Linked DNA regions of Homo sapiens: regions 1 and 3 are each linked to region 2. Evidence: fine-mapped expression QTL. A gene starts in region 2. Each other region holds a variant in brackets. All regions are shown on one strand. Distances are between the middles of the regions.

What was found. PIP is the estimated chance that this variant, and not a neighbour inherited with it, causes the effect.
Region 1: its variant is fine-mapped to the expression of MIATNB in whole blood (INTERVAL, PIP above 0.99). The same link has a PIP of 0.9 or more in blood mononuclear cells, esophagus mucosa, lung, monocytes, monocytes after LPS and monocytes after Pam3CSK4.
Region 3: its variant is fine-mapped to the expression of MIATNB in whole blood (INTERVAL, PIP above 0.99). The same link has a PIP of 0.9 or more in sigmoid colon.

What each region holds. Positions count from the first base shown.
Region 1 is chr22:26,691,372-26,696,597 of GRCh38, reverse strand. All of the region lies in intron 1 of MIATNB (MIAT neighbor), which reads right to left. Among named protein-coding and RNA genes, the nearest start is that of MIATNB, 21 kb to the right of the region's middle. The variant C/A (reference allele first, on the strand shown) is at 2,906.
Region 2 is chr22:26,670,119-26,675,344 of GRCh38, reverse strand. It overlaps MIATNB (MIAT neighbor), which reads right to left and starts at 2,502. Exons shown (of 6, transcript NR_110543.1): 1 at 2,358-2,502. MIAT (myocardial infarction associated transcript) reads right to left here. Exons shown (of 5, transcript NR_033320.3): 5 at 1-5,226.
Region 3 is chr22:26,746,594-26,751,819 of GRCh38, reverse strand. The region is part of intron 2 of MIATNB (MIAT neighbor); the gene reads right to left. Among named protein-coding and RNA genes, the nearest start is that of MIATNB, 76 kb to the right of the region's middle. RefSeq lists an enhancer at 1-806. The variant C/T (reference allele first, on the strand shown) is at 2,762.

The sequences.
Region 1 (5,226 bases), 21 kb before region 2:
GGAAACTCCAATATCCATCAACAGATGAGTGGATAAGTAAAATGTGATATATACATTCAATGAAATATTATTTAGCCATAAAAATGAATGAAATAGGCCGGGCGCGGTGGCTCACGCCTGTAATCCCAGCGCTTTGGGAGGCTGAGGCAGGCGGATCACGAGCTCAGGAGATCGAGACCATCCTGGCTAACACGGTGAAACCCCAACTCTACTAAAAATATAAAAAATTAGCCGGGCGTGGTGGCAGGCGCCTGTAGTCCCAGTTACACAGGAGGCTGAGGCAGGAGAATGGCGTGAATCCAGGAGGCGGAGGTTGCAGTGAGCCGAGATCGCACCACTGCACTCCAGCCTGGGCGACAGAGCGAGACTCTGTCTCAAAAAAAAAAAAGAATGAAATACTGATACATGCGACAACATGGATGAACCTTGAAAACATGCTAAGTGAAAGAAGCCAAGCATGTATTGTACAATTCCATTTATATGAAATACCCAGAATAGTCAAACTGATAGAGACAGAAAGCTGATTAGTGGTTGCCTAGGTTTTGCGGGAAGGAGGCAAGGGGGAGTGACTGCTAATAGTTGTGGGATTTCCTTTCAGGGTAATGAAAATGTTCTGGAACCAGATAGTGATGATGCTTATACAACCTTGTGAATGGACTAAAGGCCACTGAATTGTCCACTTTAGAAAGGTTAAAATGGCAAATTTTAGGTTATGTGTCTTTCACCACAACTCTTAAAATCTAGGAACATAAATAAATAGATGGACTGGGAAACCACCCAGTAGCTCCTCAGCACGCCCAAGAATAAAATCCAAAAGACAAGCTCTTACCTACAAGGCCCTACATGAGTTATCCTCCCCTCTCTCATTCAGCTCCTTGCTGATCTTTGAACACATCAAGCAGGATCCCACCTCAGGGCCTTTGCTCCTGCTGTCTCCCTCTACCTGGCAGGTCAGGTCTCCACTCTGCTCACTCCATCTACCTCACATAGGCCATGGCAGATAGACTCAAAGGGGCTCCCAATGCCCCCCACCTCTCAGTATTTACCCATTTGTATAACCTCCACCCTTACATATGGGCAGGACCAAGAGCTTGCTTCTAATCAATAGAATACAATAAAGAGGACCCAGCATGGTGACTCATGCCTGTAATCCCAGCACTTTGGGAGGCTGAGGCAGGCAGATCACTTGAGGTCAGCAGTTGGAGACCAGCCTAGCCAGCATGGTGAAACCCTGTGTCTACTAAAAATACAAAAAAATTAGCCCAGTGTGGTCGTGCATGCCTGCAATCCCAGTTACTCAGGAGGCTGAGGCAGGAGAATCACTTGAACCCGGGAGGTGGAGGTTGCAGTGAGCCGTGATTGCACCACTGCAGTCCAGCCTGAGTGGCACAGCAAGATTATTCCATCTCAAAAAAAAAAAAAAAAACCCACAGAGGAAAGAATACAATAAAGGGGACAGGAGGCTGCTCTCATGACTACATCATATAAGACTGTAATTAATGCCCATCTTGCTAGGAGACTCTCCTTGCTGGCTTTGATGAAGCAAGCAGCCACACTGGGGTGGGCCATGTGCAGTAGCCTCTGGCCAACAAACAGCCAGGCAGTGAGGGCTGCTTCCATCTTATAGCCAGCAAGAAACTGAGGCCCTCAGTCTTACAGCCCACAAGGAACTGAATTCTGCCAACAACCCCATGAGTTTGGAAGTGGATCCTTCCCCGGTTGAGTTTCAAGTGAGGCTACAGCCCCAACCAATACTTTGACTATAGGTTTTAGAGGAGATTCTGAAGCAGAGGACACAGCCTAGGTTCTTGGCCCTCAGACACAGTAAGATAATAAATATATGCTGCTTTCAGTTTGTGGCCATTTGTTATGTAGCGTTGGTGCATGGGTCCCTGTTCAAATGTCACCTCCTTAGAGAAGTCTTTTCTGAATTCGCTTTCTAAAACAGAATTTGTCTGACACAGAAAGATAAATACTGTATGACCTCACCTATATTTGGAATCTAAAAGAGTCAAAGCATAGAGACATAGACTAAAATACTGGTTGCCAGAGGTTGGAGGGACAGGGAAATGAGATGTTGGTCAAAGGGTACAAAGTTTCAATTAAGCAAGATGGATGAGTTCTGGAGATCTAATGTATGGCATAATGATTACAGTTAATAATATATATTTGAAATTTGCTAAGAGGGTAGGTTTCACCACAAAAAAAGACAATTATGTGAGGCGATGAACGTGTCAAATAGCTTGACTATAAGGATCATTTCACAACATATATGTATATTACAGCATCAAGTTGTACCCCTTAAACATTACCCAATTATATTTGGGTATTGGTCAATCTATTTGTCAATTATGTCCAAATAAAATAAAATCTGATCCACCGTTACTTTCCACAGTTACCCTGACTTTTTTCTCCATATCCCTTGCTGCAATCTGACTCATTATATGTTTATTTACAAATACATAATCTTGAGAGCAAGGATCTAGTCTGTCCTGGTCATCTCTGCATCTCCAGTGCCTCTCATGGAACTTGGCACATAGCAGACATTCAATAAATAAGGAATGACCGAACAATCAGCCATCTTTATATAGGCTTCACTATGGGCACTCGCCTTAGTTGTCCTCACCATGACCCAGCAAGCTGGTATAATTATTCCCATTTTATGAATGTAAAAAGTGAGGCTCAGTGGTAAAGAATGACACACCCAAGCTCATATAGCTGGTAAATGGCAGAACCAACAATTAAATCCAGGTAGCCTCACCCAAAGGTCCATGTTCTTCACTGCCATGCAGGCAACCTCAGATGATCAGCAGCACCTTTGTTCCCATTTTCTTCCTTCTATGAAAGGGGTACTTTTATCCATCCTGGGTCAGTGGCAGGAGGGACTCTCCCCATCCCTTTCTCC[C/A]AGCCCTGCTATCTGTGGACAGGAACAGGTAAAGATCTTCAGAAGCCTTAAGCTTAGAAAAGATGAGGGAGCCCCCTCTGCAATCTCCTATGTAAACTGAAATTAAAACAATGCAAAACCATAAAACCCAAAATATGTGTGCATGTTGATGTTAAAGGAACTGTTTTCTAGATTTCCTGATTCTGGTTGTTGAAGTGCAACCTTTTTCATCCCTTTCATGACCTGACTTTCCTGAGCTCCAAGCCCATCCTTAGCTGACCTCCTGGAGGAGCTAGGTCTGCATATGGGATTTTGAGTAAAGAAGGGAACGAGGGAAAGACAGAATACCCCCGGCAAAGAGAACAGCATGGATGTGCACAGGCCCTGGGGTAGAAGTAAGTACAGCAGAGACAAGGAACTGGAAGAAGAGTCTTAGACATTTGCGAAGTGTAGACACACTATAGGCTAGAAACTGCACTTTTACTTAGGAATTCCACCTAATCTTCACCAGACCTCCATAAGGTAACTACAACTATCAATGCACTTCTACAGTTGAGCAAACTAACACACAGAAAGGCAACACACCTTGCTGTTTTGGTCATCTTAGGCTACACTATGTGATGCTAACAGGTGCCTTCAAAGGTCTCGGTGGCTTAGATAGCAATCATTCATTCCTCTGCAATCTGACAAACCCTTGTAGCTCTGTTTTTGCTCTGCCCCTCCTCACTTCATTCCAGGATGAAGGCAAAGGGAGCAACTCCCTTATGGAAACCTGATGGTCTCAAGGCCAAGGTAAAAAGGGAAGGTGAAGCACAACACTTAGGAAATAGTAAAAATTACCATAGTGTCACAAAGAGGGAAGGGAAAAGGTGACCACACAAGGGTTCTTACAGTGTCTGCCAAAAAGTGGCACATACCACCTCCACTCACTTTCATCCCATTGGCTGAAAGTCACCTGGCCAACCTGACACCAGTTGGGTAGGGATATGAAATCTCCTGTAGAGATGACCACATAGGGAAGGGTCCCCATAAGGTCATGTATTTCAGAAATGGCCAGACAAGAATTCAAACCAAGGTGGATTTTTTCCACACATACATACATCCCCTGCTCCATTCCATCCCCTGGGCTATGCACTTTAGAGAACTCTGTGTCCTCAATAACAGTAAAACTCTGTCCTTCCAAATCATGCCCTGGAAGGAGGAAGCTCCAGCAAAGGAGAGGCAGCTGGGTTAAAAAGATATGAGCATACCTTCCCAAGATGCACCATCCCCTTGGGATCTTATGCATCCTTCAAAACCCAGCTTAAAAGGATGCTGCCTTTCCAGGCTCCCCCAGTTGAGCAGACCTCTCCCTCCCACATGCCCACCGATGAGCACTATACTTTCCTCTCTTAAAGCTCCTGTTCCCCTCCACTGCACGATAATCTGTATACAGGTCCGTTTCTTTCATCAGACTGTAAATAACATGAGGACATAAGAATGGCATCTTGGCCAGGCATAGTGGCTCACACCTATAATCTCAGCACTTTGGGAGGCCGAGGCGAGCAAACTACCTGAGGTCAGGAGTTCAAGACCAGCCTGGCCAACAGGATGAAACCCCGTCTCTATTAAAAATATAAAAATTAGCCAGGTATGGTGGTGGACACCTGTAATCCCAGCTACTCGGGAGGCTGAGGCAGGAGAATTGCTTGAACTTGGGAGGCAGAGATTGCAGTGAGCCAAGATCATGCCACTCCACTCCAGCCAGCCTGGGCAACAGAGGGAGAATCTGGAATCTGTCAACAAAAAAAAAAGATGGAAAGATGAAAGAAAGAAAGAAAGAAAGAAAAAGAAAGAAAGAAAGAAAGAAAGAAAGAAAGAAAGAAAGAAAGAAAGAAAGAAAGAAAAGAAAAGAAAAGAAAAGAAAAGAAAAGAAAAGAAAAGAAAAGAAAAGAATGGAATCTCATTCCGCTCTGAACACAGTGCATAGCTTAAGACATGCAGTAAAAGTCTGATGAATGAATAGATTGGTCAGTGGATATATATGGGTCGATGGAGGTGGAGAGGTTGGAAGTCAAGTTTTGGAATTGAATTAGAATCCCAGCTTTGCCACTTGCTAGCTGTGTGACTCTGGTTTATTTACTTAACCTCTCTGGACCTTTACGAAGTAGAAATATAAGTGTGTCTCTCACTGGATTGTTAGATTGTCAGGAAACGGAAGGGTGCACGGTATGATCTGACTTTAAAGAGATTTGAATTTGAATCTGAACTCTAACACTAGAAGGTGTGTGACTCTAAGAAGTTGCTTGTGCGGCGTATCATCTATTTACCCCTCTTGATCCACTGTCCATCCTCCTCCAACC
Region 2 (5,226 bases):
ACCCGGCACCATGTCCATGTCTCCTATCTCTTGCTACATTCCACATGAACCTTCCAGAACCTCTTTGGATCCTCTCTGATCCCCAGAAACTGGTGTCCACCACTCTCGCTGCCCGGAACTCATCCCCACCCACACTCCACCCAGCCACAGCTCAGCTTAGATGCCTCCCTCTCCAGAAAGCCACCACAGGGTGGATTAGGTGTCTCTCTGTCCCCATTCCACCCCCCTGCACCCAACACACTAGAATTAAAGCTCCTGAAGACCAAATGGTGTTTAACTACCACTACATCCCCAATGCCTGGCACACGCCTGGCACAGAGTAGGTGCACATCAATCTTGTCTGTCTCCTTGGTGCTCCCACAGACCCCTGACCAATCATAACACCCATCTCACTGAATCACTATCTACTTCACCAACTCTCCCACTAGGCTATAAAAGCACCATGACGAAAAAGCCCAGGTGCAGGTCCCAGCGCCCAGAGCAGTGCCTGGCACATAGTAGATCCTTAGCAGCATCAAGTCTTTGCAGTTAAACAAAGAGGAGTTTCAGGAATAGGAGGTGTGAGCTTCCTGCTTTGAGTGAAATGGAGCAAGGCAGCCACTAGAGGATGGCAGGCAGGCACTTCCGGGTGTAGACTACCCCATCCAAGGTCCCTGCCAGCAGCCAAGGCATGTTCTCAAAGCTCTTTCTAAGACATCTTTTCTCTCTTGTGCCCTCTGCAGCTCAGGCCTCTGGATCACCCTTCACCCCCACTGCCAACTACAATTGGTTAGCTCTGAGTCCACAGTTGCCAGAGAAAAGGGCTCTCAGCACCAGACTAGCATTCAACGACCCAAGCAACCTGCCTCTAAGGTCTGTAAGCCAGCCTTTGACCTGTCCCTAAACTGATCCAATCCTCCAGGCCCTGCCTTGAACTGTCTTCTCCTGCAGACTCTGACTACCAGACTGAGTCAGCAAAACCTTGAACTAGTGCCACCTTTTACCTGCACCTGGAATCCCTTGCGTATGCTCCCTGCCCCTCTACTCCCAAAGGACGTTCCCTCAGTCTAAAGAGATCAAAAGTCCCTTCCAGAAAAACTCCCGTTTCCTCGGTGCAGCTAAATTGCACAGAAGAGTTTATGCTAGAAGAGCTAAAAGTTAGAACAGGAAGCTCAGATAATTTATACTACTAACATGTAAATGACTGACGGAGTTATAACCCTTCTGAATACTCTGATCTAAAGCTTTATGTCCTAGAACTTCCAAAACACAAAGTCCCCAAAATGAAGACTCTAGGCCCTGGCCTGGGGAAGGGTGACTCTATACAAAATGGCATATGCTCTGTAGACACCAGACAGGTATTTTAAGGTTTATAAGAGCTGCATCTACTTGTGCAAACTACTGTAGCTATAAGGCTATATTTTTTTAAGAACTGAAACCAAATGCAGACTATGAGGAGTGAAGATATGCCCAATGGCCAAAACCTTGCAAGACTGGCTATACTTCTGACCCCACCTTGGTGGGTACCACTGCTCCATCAGGCCTGGTCCACACCAGAGCCCTGGCACCTCCTTTAGAAAACTACCATCTTTACCGACTTCTGATTGTTCTGACTCAGAGCAGCCACCACGCCCAAAATTGTTAGCTATGCTTTTCCCTGTGTTAGTCAAGTTCAAACCTGTGTTAGCCAAGTTCAAACCTGTGTTAGCCAAGTTCAAAGCTGTGTTAGCCCCTTCCCAGCCATGCCGACATCCAAGCTGTTAACAGTAACGAGGAATGTTAGACCTGTTGTTAGTCAGAAAAAAATCCACAAACCATTAGTTTCTGCTGAAAGGAACAGACCAGGAAGGCAGGAGTTAGTCAAGGTGAAGGAAAGGTTAATTAAGAACCGGTCAGGGCCAGGCCAGGAGCCTGGAACCCCCAGACAGGGCCAGGTTGGTTGTTAGTGGTCAGCCCCTGGGGCAGTCAGGGTGAGGCAGGGATTAGCTGGGTGAGAGCAAGAGTTAGCGCAAGGGAGCCAGAGATTAGCCCAAAGAAACCAAGGTGCCTACTGGAGGTGAGGCATGAAATCACCCCCAGGTGTGGCCCCGGCTTAGCGGCTGGCGGGCTCTGGGGGAGGCTGGCTGAGGCAGTGACGTCCGTGGGAACAGAGAGCCAGAGATGCATTCCTGGCCGGCCTGAGCATCTGCGGGAACCCTGTGAGCCCCTGAGGTTCACTTCTTGCTCCCCACTTCTCTCTCCTGCAAACTCCGAGCCCGGGGTAAAGCTGCTTCCCCTCCCCACACCCCTTTTCAACCCGACAACTAACGCCCTCTAGCTTCCGGGAATGGGACGGATCTTTCCCAAGGACTTCCGGTCACGGCCCCACGTCTACTTACGGTGGGGGAAACCGGCCTCTCTCGGCTCCAGAGAGGGGAGACGGCTCTCTAGCTGACTTCCTGTGTGGGAAAGAGTCCTCTCACTGACTTCCGGTGTCAGAAATGTCCCTCTTTCCGGCCTTCAAATATGAGAAATGTTTCTCTGGCCGACTTCCTGTGTACTAAATACTCCACTCAGTGGTTTTTAGCGTAGGAAAGACCCGCTTCATTGACTTCCGGTGTAAGAAAGGCTCCGCTTTCTGACTTCCGGTGTGGGACACGCCCCTCTGCTAATTTCCGGTGAGGGGCACGCCCCCTCCTGCCTTCCTCGTGGGATACGCCCCCCTCGTGACTTCCTGTGCAGGACAGCTTCTATCCCCGTCACTTAACAATGGAGAGGATTCTTCCCCAGCTTCCTTCCAGAGGACACAAAAGCTCAGAGCTCCACAGTCTAGAGTCTAGACCAACAGGCCTCCACACTCACGTCCCAGAGATTTCCCTGGTCCCACCTACTCCCAGTGGCAACCAGACTTCTGCACATAGGAGAGATGTCATACTCAGAGTCCAGCCTCCCACATCCACAGGACCACCTCTTCCTCCTCTGAGTCTTGTTAATAGGGCCATCCCCTGCCTTAGACCTGGCCCAGTGGACTCTGATCTTACAGCCAATATGGGGCAGCAAAGTGGGACATCTGTCTACAGGGCCAGTAGCCCCAGGTCATCTGCTTGCCAAAAGGAGGGGGACCAGCCCCCGGGGGGAGCCCAGAGCTCGGCAGGGCTGGGGTTAGTAAGAAGAGAAAACAGGGTTAGTAGGGGCTGGGTTAGTAAGTCAGAGCACAGCACCAGCGGACAGGGCACCTCAGCAGACACACACAGGAGTCGCTAAGAGAAAAGGAAGAACGCACGCAGGTCCGTTAGTTTGTTAAGGGATGATCGGGGTGCAGTTGAGGCACCCCAGGGGTTAGACGGGTTAGTAATCGAACAAAAGAGCTGCCTACAGAAAAGAAAGCTGAGACGGAGGAAGAATGTGGGGAAGTGACATGGATTCAAAGCCAAGTGTCTTGCCCCAGGCAGAAGGATCTGTGTGCAGAACACCCAGAGAGGCCAGGGCCTAGGCAGCAGACGTGTTCAACCAGGTTTGAGGGGCCTTCCTCCATCCTCATACTTTTTTTTTTTTTAGGTGTCTGCCATGTGCTGAGACCCTTATATTGACGGGAATCCTCACTGCAACCTGTAAGGTATCAGAACTCGCATTCTACCACTGAGGAAACTGAGGTTGAGAGAAGTGAGGTGACTTACTCAAACTCACTCAACAGGAAGTGGCAGAGTTGGTGAGTCTTATTTGCATTCTCTGTCCTGGAACGTGGGTCTGCACAAAGATCCCAGCCCATAGGCAGAGCCTTCTGGAGCCTTGGCTGCCCCCATATCCCAGCCCCTTGAAAGGCCCATGAGCTGCACAGTTAGTAGGATCTGGCTGCGGGGGGGTGGTTAGTAGGGCATGCTCGGGCCTGGTTAGTGGGTTAGTTGGTTGGCAGAAGGCCAGGCACCTCGTCACACGCCACAGCGTCCCGGCTGAGCCCTGGGTTAGTAGGTTAATCACACCATGCAACACTGCCCCGGCCCCTCCAGCTGCAGCTTCAGAGGCCTCCCGCCCCCACCAGCCAGGGAGTGGGGCCTGACCAGGGCAGGGGGTCTAACTCTAAGCCCCCCAGCCCCATCAAAATCAACCCTAACCACATGGACCCTGCCCAAAAGCATGTTGCTTCCCTATTTATTGGCTGTGGGTCTCAGAGCACCCCCTGCAAATATTTCAGCTCCCCTGAAAATGGACCCTACTTGTCCTAGACAGAAACCCCCTGCCTGGTTCTGGTCAGCCCCTTCCCAGAGGGCTGGATCCTGTTACACTCTGACAGACACACGCACACCCGCATCTCTCCGCAAAAGATCTGACAACCGTGCTTAGTAGACATCTCTTCCATCACCGACTGTCAGGCCTCTAGTTTCTCCAACTATTGGCCTGCCCTCCCACCATTAGAAAAAAAAAAAACGCATCAAGCTGGCCTGGCTCCTGGAACCAAGTTGAGACTCCCCCACGCCCACCCGGTCTGCTTCCTTTTCAGCCAATGCTACAAAGCACCTAAGTGTACCCTAATTATGCCATCTTCTATCACTGCTGTACTTTTCCCATAGAAACCCCAGCCTAGCATCTCCCACAGTTCTAAACGATGTTCCATGAGAAAAAGATTCTACGGCCATAAAAGTCAAGGAACACTTCATCCTATGCCCTGTCCCTGAGTATTTGAAATTGCCATTAGCATTTTAAAGGTTCTGATAAGTCCTGCACTACTTCAGTAGTGCAGCGGAATTTGAATTAGAACCTGCTTTTTTTTTTTTTTTTTTTTTTTTAAGGAGCAATGACATTTCCTAGAAGTTACTTTAAGAATTTCCCTAGAGGGTCGGGTATCATCTCAGCCAGATCTTTCTCATCCTTCAAGGCCCTGTTTGGTACAGCTTGCTAGGAAGCTGTTCCAGACTGCAGCAGCCCTCTCTGGGGTCTCTCTACCACTTCCCAGGCACTCAGAACTTGTGCCTCAGTAGACTGTTTTGTGGCACTGTCCCATTCTCTGATTCTCCATGTGAGCTGGTTTTATCCCATCCAGCATGGCTGTGAAATCCTAAAGGTTCAAACCCCAGCCACTCTTCACCTATATTTCCCCCAAATGGCTAGCACGGGAAAGGGCCCAAAGTAGGTGCTCAGTGCTGATGAGAGAGTAGAATTTAAATACCCCAGGAAGCATTGTGAGTTACTACGGAGGCCATGAAATGCTGCCACCTCCCCAAGCTGATTAAAGAGTGATACTAGGAAAATAGGTAGGGAAGGGCTAATCAG
Region 3 (5,226 bases), 76 kb before region 2:
TTATACAAGAGGAAATTCAGATTCAGGGAGGGAAAGTAACTTGCACAAAGTCACATAGAAAGTTAGAAGAAGGGCTGGGACTCAGACCTAGTTCTCTGGATGTTAAGACTGCTGGCAGAATTTCTAGATGGGGTGAGAAGGAGAGGCAGGATGTCCCACCCAGACCAGCCTCCATCCTGCACCATAAAGACACTTCCTTCCCTCTGCCCAGAAGTGGAGTCATTTCTCTCTTCCCTTTTAAAGGTGGATTTCTCCTCCAGCTCCTCCCTGCTCCTTCCCCCTCCCCCAGCAGCCACCCCGCTTCCCTGAGCTGCCTTCCTCCCCCTCTCTCTCTCACTCTCCAACACAAAGAGTTGTCAAGGTAACCGCATTGCCAAGGACTCTCTCTTTGTCTGGGGCCCTGGGAGGAAATGCATAAGCCAAGTCGCTGCTCACTGACCCCAGATGACCCCCACAGGGAAGGACAGCCCTGGACCATCTTTTCAAGGACTGCTTGCCTCACCCCACCTATTTCAGCCGACTGCACCCTGATAGCAGCTCCAGGTGGCACATTCCAAGTCCCAACGTGCAAGAGGCTGAGGACCTGGAGGAAGTGTCTTGGGGCATAACTTCCTGGAGACACACTGCTAGAAACACTCAGGGAAAGGAAACAGCAAAGAAAGAGCACACTATGTGCTTGGTACTGGGATGGGCATTGCCGATGGTACAGAGAATAACATCCACTATTGTGCCTGACACTGCAAAGCACCTTGGGTGACACTGAGCATAGCACCTACTGAGTGCTTAGGCCTTTGCTAGACACTGACAGGGCACTGAGCACAGCCCCTACTTTGTGCTTCCCTCTGTGCTAAGATGACGGAGAGGTGCTGGCCATGAGATGAGTTTGAGAAGGAATCTCTGAATGGCAGGTGTTTGAGTCAAGCCTTGAAAATCCTGGTTGAATACACAATGAATAGGGTTGAAGACATTGGACAGGGGGAAAATCAATACTCTCGGAGCTAAGCAGTAACTATGGACCCAGCAGGTCAGGCATGTCCCTTGCTTTAAACAGCAAAGTCAGGATTTGACATCAGACTCATCTGATTCCACGTTCCCTTCCCCCCTGTGGTGGTAACTGATGATGTTCCAGGTGATAGAGTCTCCATCAGCCTGAGTCTGTGGATGAGAAGGATGTGGAGCAGAGCCTCCACCAGCTTGGTTGGTGAAGACTTGGTTTTTGCCCTTTGGTTTTTCCCGGAGGCGTACACCGTGCACACAGAGCACAAGCAGCAAATCAATCTTGGCTGCTCTGTGCCATTAAAACCTGAGCCAGGCTGGGCACGGTGGCTCATGCCTATAATCCCAGCACTTTGGGAGGCCAAGGTAGGTGGATCACCTGAGGTCAGGAGTTTGAGACCAACCTGGCCAACATGGTGAAACCCCATCTTTACTAGAATTAAAAAAAAAAAAAATTAGCCAGGCGTGGTGGTGCACACCTGTAGTCCCAGCTACTCGGTAGGCTGAGGCAGGAGAATTGCTTGAACCCGGAAGGTGGAGGTTGCAGTGAGCTGAGATTGTGCCACTGCACTCCAGCCTGGGCGGCAGAGCAAGACTCCATCTAAAAATAAAAAATAAGAAAATAAAAAATAAAAAATAAACCTGAGCCACTAGATTCCTTAAAGAACTAAAAGTAGAGCTACTATTTGATCCAGCAATCCTACTACTGGGTATCTAGCCAGAGGAAAAGAAAGTCATCATACAAAAAAGATATTTGCCCACACATGTTTATAGCAGCACAATTCGCAATTGCAAAAATATGGAACTAGCCCAAATGACCATCAATCAACGAGCGGATAAAGAAAAGGTGATATATAGATATATATACACCATGGAATACTACTCGGCCATAAACAGGAATAAAATCGAAGCATTCACAGCAACCTGGATGGCATTTGAGACCATTATTCTAAGTGAAGTAACTCAGGAATGGGAAACCAAACATTCCACACTTACAAGTGATAGGTTAGCTTTGAGGACACAAAGGGATAAAAATGACAGAATGAATTTTGCGGACTCACGGGAAAGGGTGGGAGGGGGTGAGGGATAAAAGACTACACATTGGGTATAATGTAGACTGCTGGGGTGAGGGGTGCACCAAAATCTCAGAAATCACCATTAAAAACTTATTCATGTAACCAAACACCATCTGCTCCCCAAAAACCAATTGAAATAAAAAATAAAATTAATAAATTAATAAAAAAAATTTTTAAAAACCTGAGTCACTGTAACTGAGAATTTAGGAGGTATTAGTTATATTGCAGCATATCACAGTCCACTCTGACTGTTACATCATCAGACTGAACCAAAATCCTGCGGCTGGCCCTCCTTGAGTCTCATCTCTGAATCAATCACTGTAGGCTGAGGGCAGCAGTACTCGATTGGCTCAGACCTGGTTCACTGGCCATGCCTACCTCCAGTGAGGGAGGAGAAGGAGTCACCTCTACCCATGTTGTTGGGCTTGGCATGGCCAAGGGTGGCTTTTCAAGGAAGATGGCATGCTGTTACCAGAAAGCGGGGCAGTTGCTGAAAAGGAGATACGAACACGTGTCCACTTTGAGGGCCTCATAGCCAAATGCTGTGCAAGAGGTTCCTACGCTGAATGGGAGACAAGTTCCCAGGCTGCTGCTGCTTCTCACAAGTCTCTGAAATTTGCCTGGAAAAAGATTCTATTGATTTTTTCTGGGTAACGTGGCTTCTTCCCTCAAAGAAGTCCTTTGGTTGC[C/T]GGGAGGCCTGCCAGGCAAGGGGTTGGCTTTCCCCAGGAAGGGTGGAGAAGACTAGGCTGGGGTAGGGAAATCAAGGGGAGAAGGAATGGCCAGCTGCCCCTAGCTGCCCAGGGAGAGGGAGGAGGCCAAGCTTGCTCAGAGCAGTAGTTGGAGACTAGCACGGACACCCCTGTGATCCTTTTTTCTAAAACCCAGATCTTTTGCCTTCACTTCTCTCCTTAAAAACCTTACATGGCTCCTTGCAAACTAAAATCAGCGTTGATTTCTATGCCAGGCACTGAACAACGTATTCCATTTACATTGTTATCCCCCCTAAAACTTCATAAGCAGCTATTAGAGTTTAGAGTTTTAACTCGTGAAAAATATGAGCAAATGAATGCTCAGAATCACAAGTGGCAGAACCAAGGTCACAGAACTCAAAACAGAGCTCCTAGTCTTCACCCACCCATTCAACTTGCCTTAAAAAAAAAAAAAGCTATAGGCCAGGCACAATGGCTCATGCCTGTAATCCCAGCACTTTGGGAGGCCGAGGTGGACAGATCACGAGGTCAGGAGTTCGAGACCAGACTGTCCTATATGGTGAAACCCCGTCTCTACCAAAAAATACAAAAATTAGGTGGGCGTGGTGGTGCTCCCCTATAGTCCCGGCTACTTGGGAGGCTGAGGCAGGAGAATCACTTGAACCTGAGAGGCAGAGGTTGCAGTGAGCCGAGATTGCGCCACTGCACTCCAGTCTGGCCAACAGAGTGAGATTCCATCTCAAAAAACAAAAAAGCTATAAAAATTGAAAAAACAATCTGATGAATACAAAGAGAAATAAAAGAGATAATTAACCTTTACTTGCCACACTCATTCCAGCTACTCTCCCAAGGAAGCACCATTAACTCTTTGTTGAACATCCATCCTGACCTCTCTCTATGGTCAAATAATATGTTTGAGCATTTATTGAGAGCCAAGAATGTGCCAGGGCATCGGAGGTTATTTTCACAGAGAGTGCTTCTCAGGGATGTACAAATTCCCATGCAATTCCATCTATTTTTTTAATGACCTTAACTAGTCAGAGCACATGGCTGAAGAAACTGACAAGTAAACATTTATTGCTAAAACCCAATAGATTAGGTCCCTTTGCAGCTCCAAATTTCCCAACAATCCACACTTCACCTAGAGGAAAGCCAAAGTCCCTGCATCCACCCAGAGGCCCTACAGAATCTGGTCCCTTGGTCACCTCTCCAACTTGGACCTCACCATCTGCCACCCTCTCCCTTCACTTCCTCCAGTAATATCTCACTTTTTTTCAAAAGGCCCCCAGCACGTCCTGCCTCAGAGCCTTTGCACCTGCTGATCCCTGTCCCTGAAACACCCTTCTCCCAGATACCCCCACGGCTCACATCCTCGCCTCCTTTGAAGTCTTTGCTCAAATGTCTCTTTTCCTTAACTAAACTGGACTCTCCCCATCCCCAACAAACACACGAAACCCATTTTACCTTCTTTGTTTCCTCATAGCATCTATTACTGTCCAACATAGTATACAAACCTTGTTTTATCATCTTCCACCACTCACTAGGATGTAGCTTCAGTGAAGTGAGGAATGTGTGTCTATTTTGTTCCCAGCTAAATCCCCAAGGCCTTAGAACAATGCCTGGCATACAGTGGGTGCTTCATAAATGTTTGTTGAATGACTCCATTAATTTAAAGAAGCCATAGTTCAGGCAGCAACATGGCTCAGACAAGATTGAATACTTTTTAGAGCATGTGAACCTCTTTCTTTTTGGAGCCGGCATCCAGCACTGTGAAACTTGAAAAGATCAGCATGCCAGAAGGAATGCAGGGGTTAGGGGAGCAGTCAAAGGGGACTTTCTCCCAAAGTCATTTTCTGCAGATCCCCTTTCCCAGTTCAGCCCAGGGTTGAGGAGTGACATCCCAAATCAGAGGGACCGCAAATCAGATATCCTCAACCCGTCCCTGAGCGATCTCCTTTCCCCTGGATCTACCAGAAACAGGGGTCCTAGAAAGTTGAAAGTCAAAAGCAGGGGTCTTTGGGACCCAGCTTTCGGGGGCAGCTCAGGCTCATCCTGAGGCTGGTGCTGTGGGCTCAGTTCTCCAGGTATGATTTATGCCTATGGCCGAACTTTATTTTCTACTTTTTTGGATTCTGCTCTGAATTTTTTTCTTCTTGGCCTTTTCCTGGGTCAATGCAGTCTTGTTATTTGATTTACTGTTAACAGTATTGACTGCATAGGATTGAGCCAAGAAATGGAAGAAATTGCTTTTTCTCTCTTTCTATCTCCTGTTTGACAACTCAGTCTTAGCACTGGATTTAGCCAAGCTCTGTGAGAGCCAAGGGAGGCAAAGGAAGTGGGAGTGTTGTGGCTTTGCGGCTGGAAGGTGACCCTGGGAGGAAAATGGCAAGGAATTGTCATTGAAAAGGTCCTGTGGCTGTTTTACCTTCTAAATAAGATAAAGA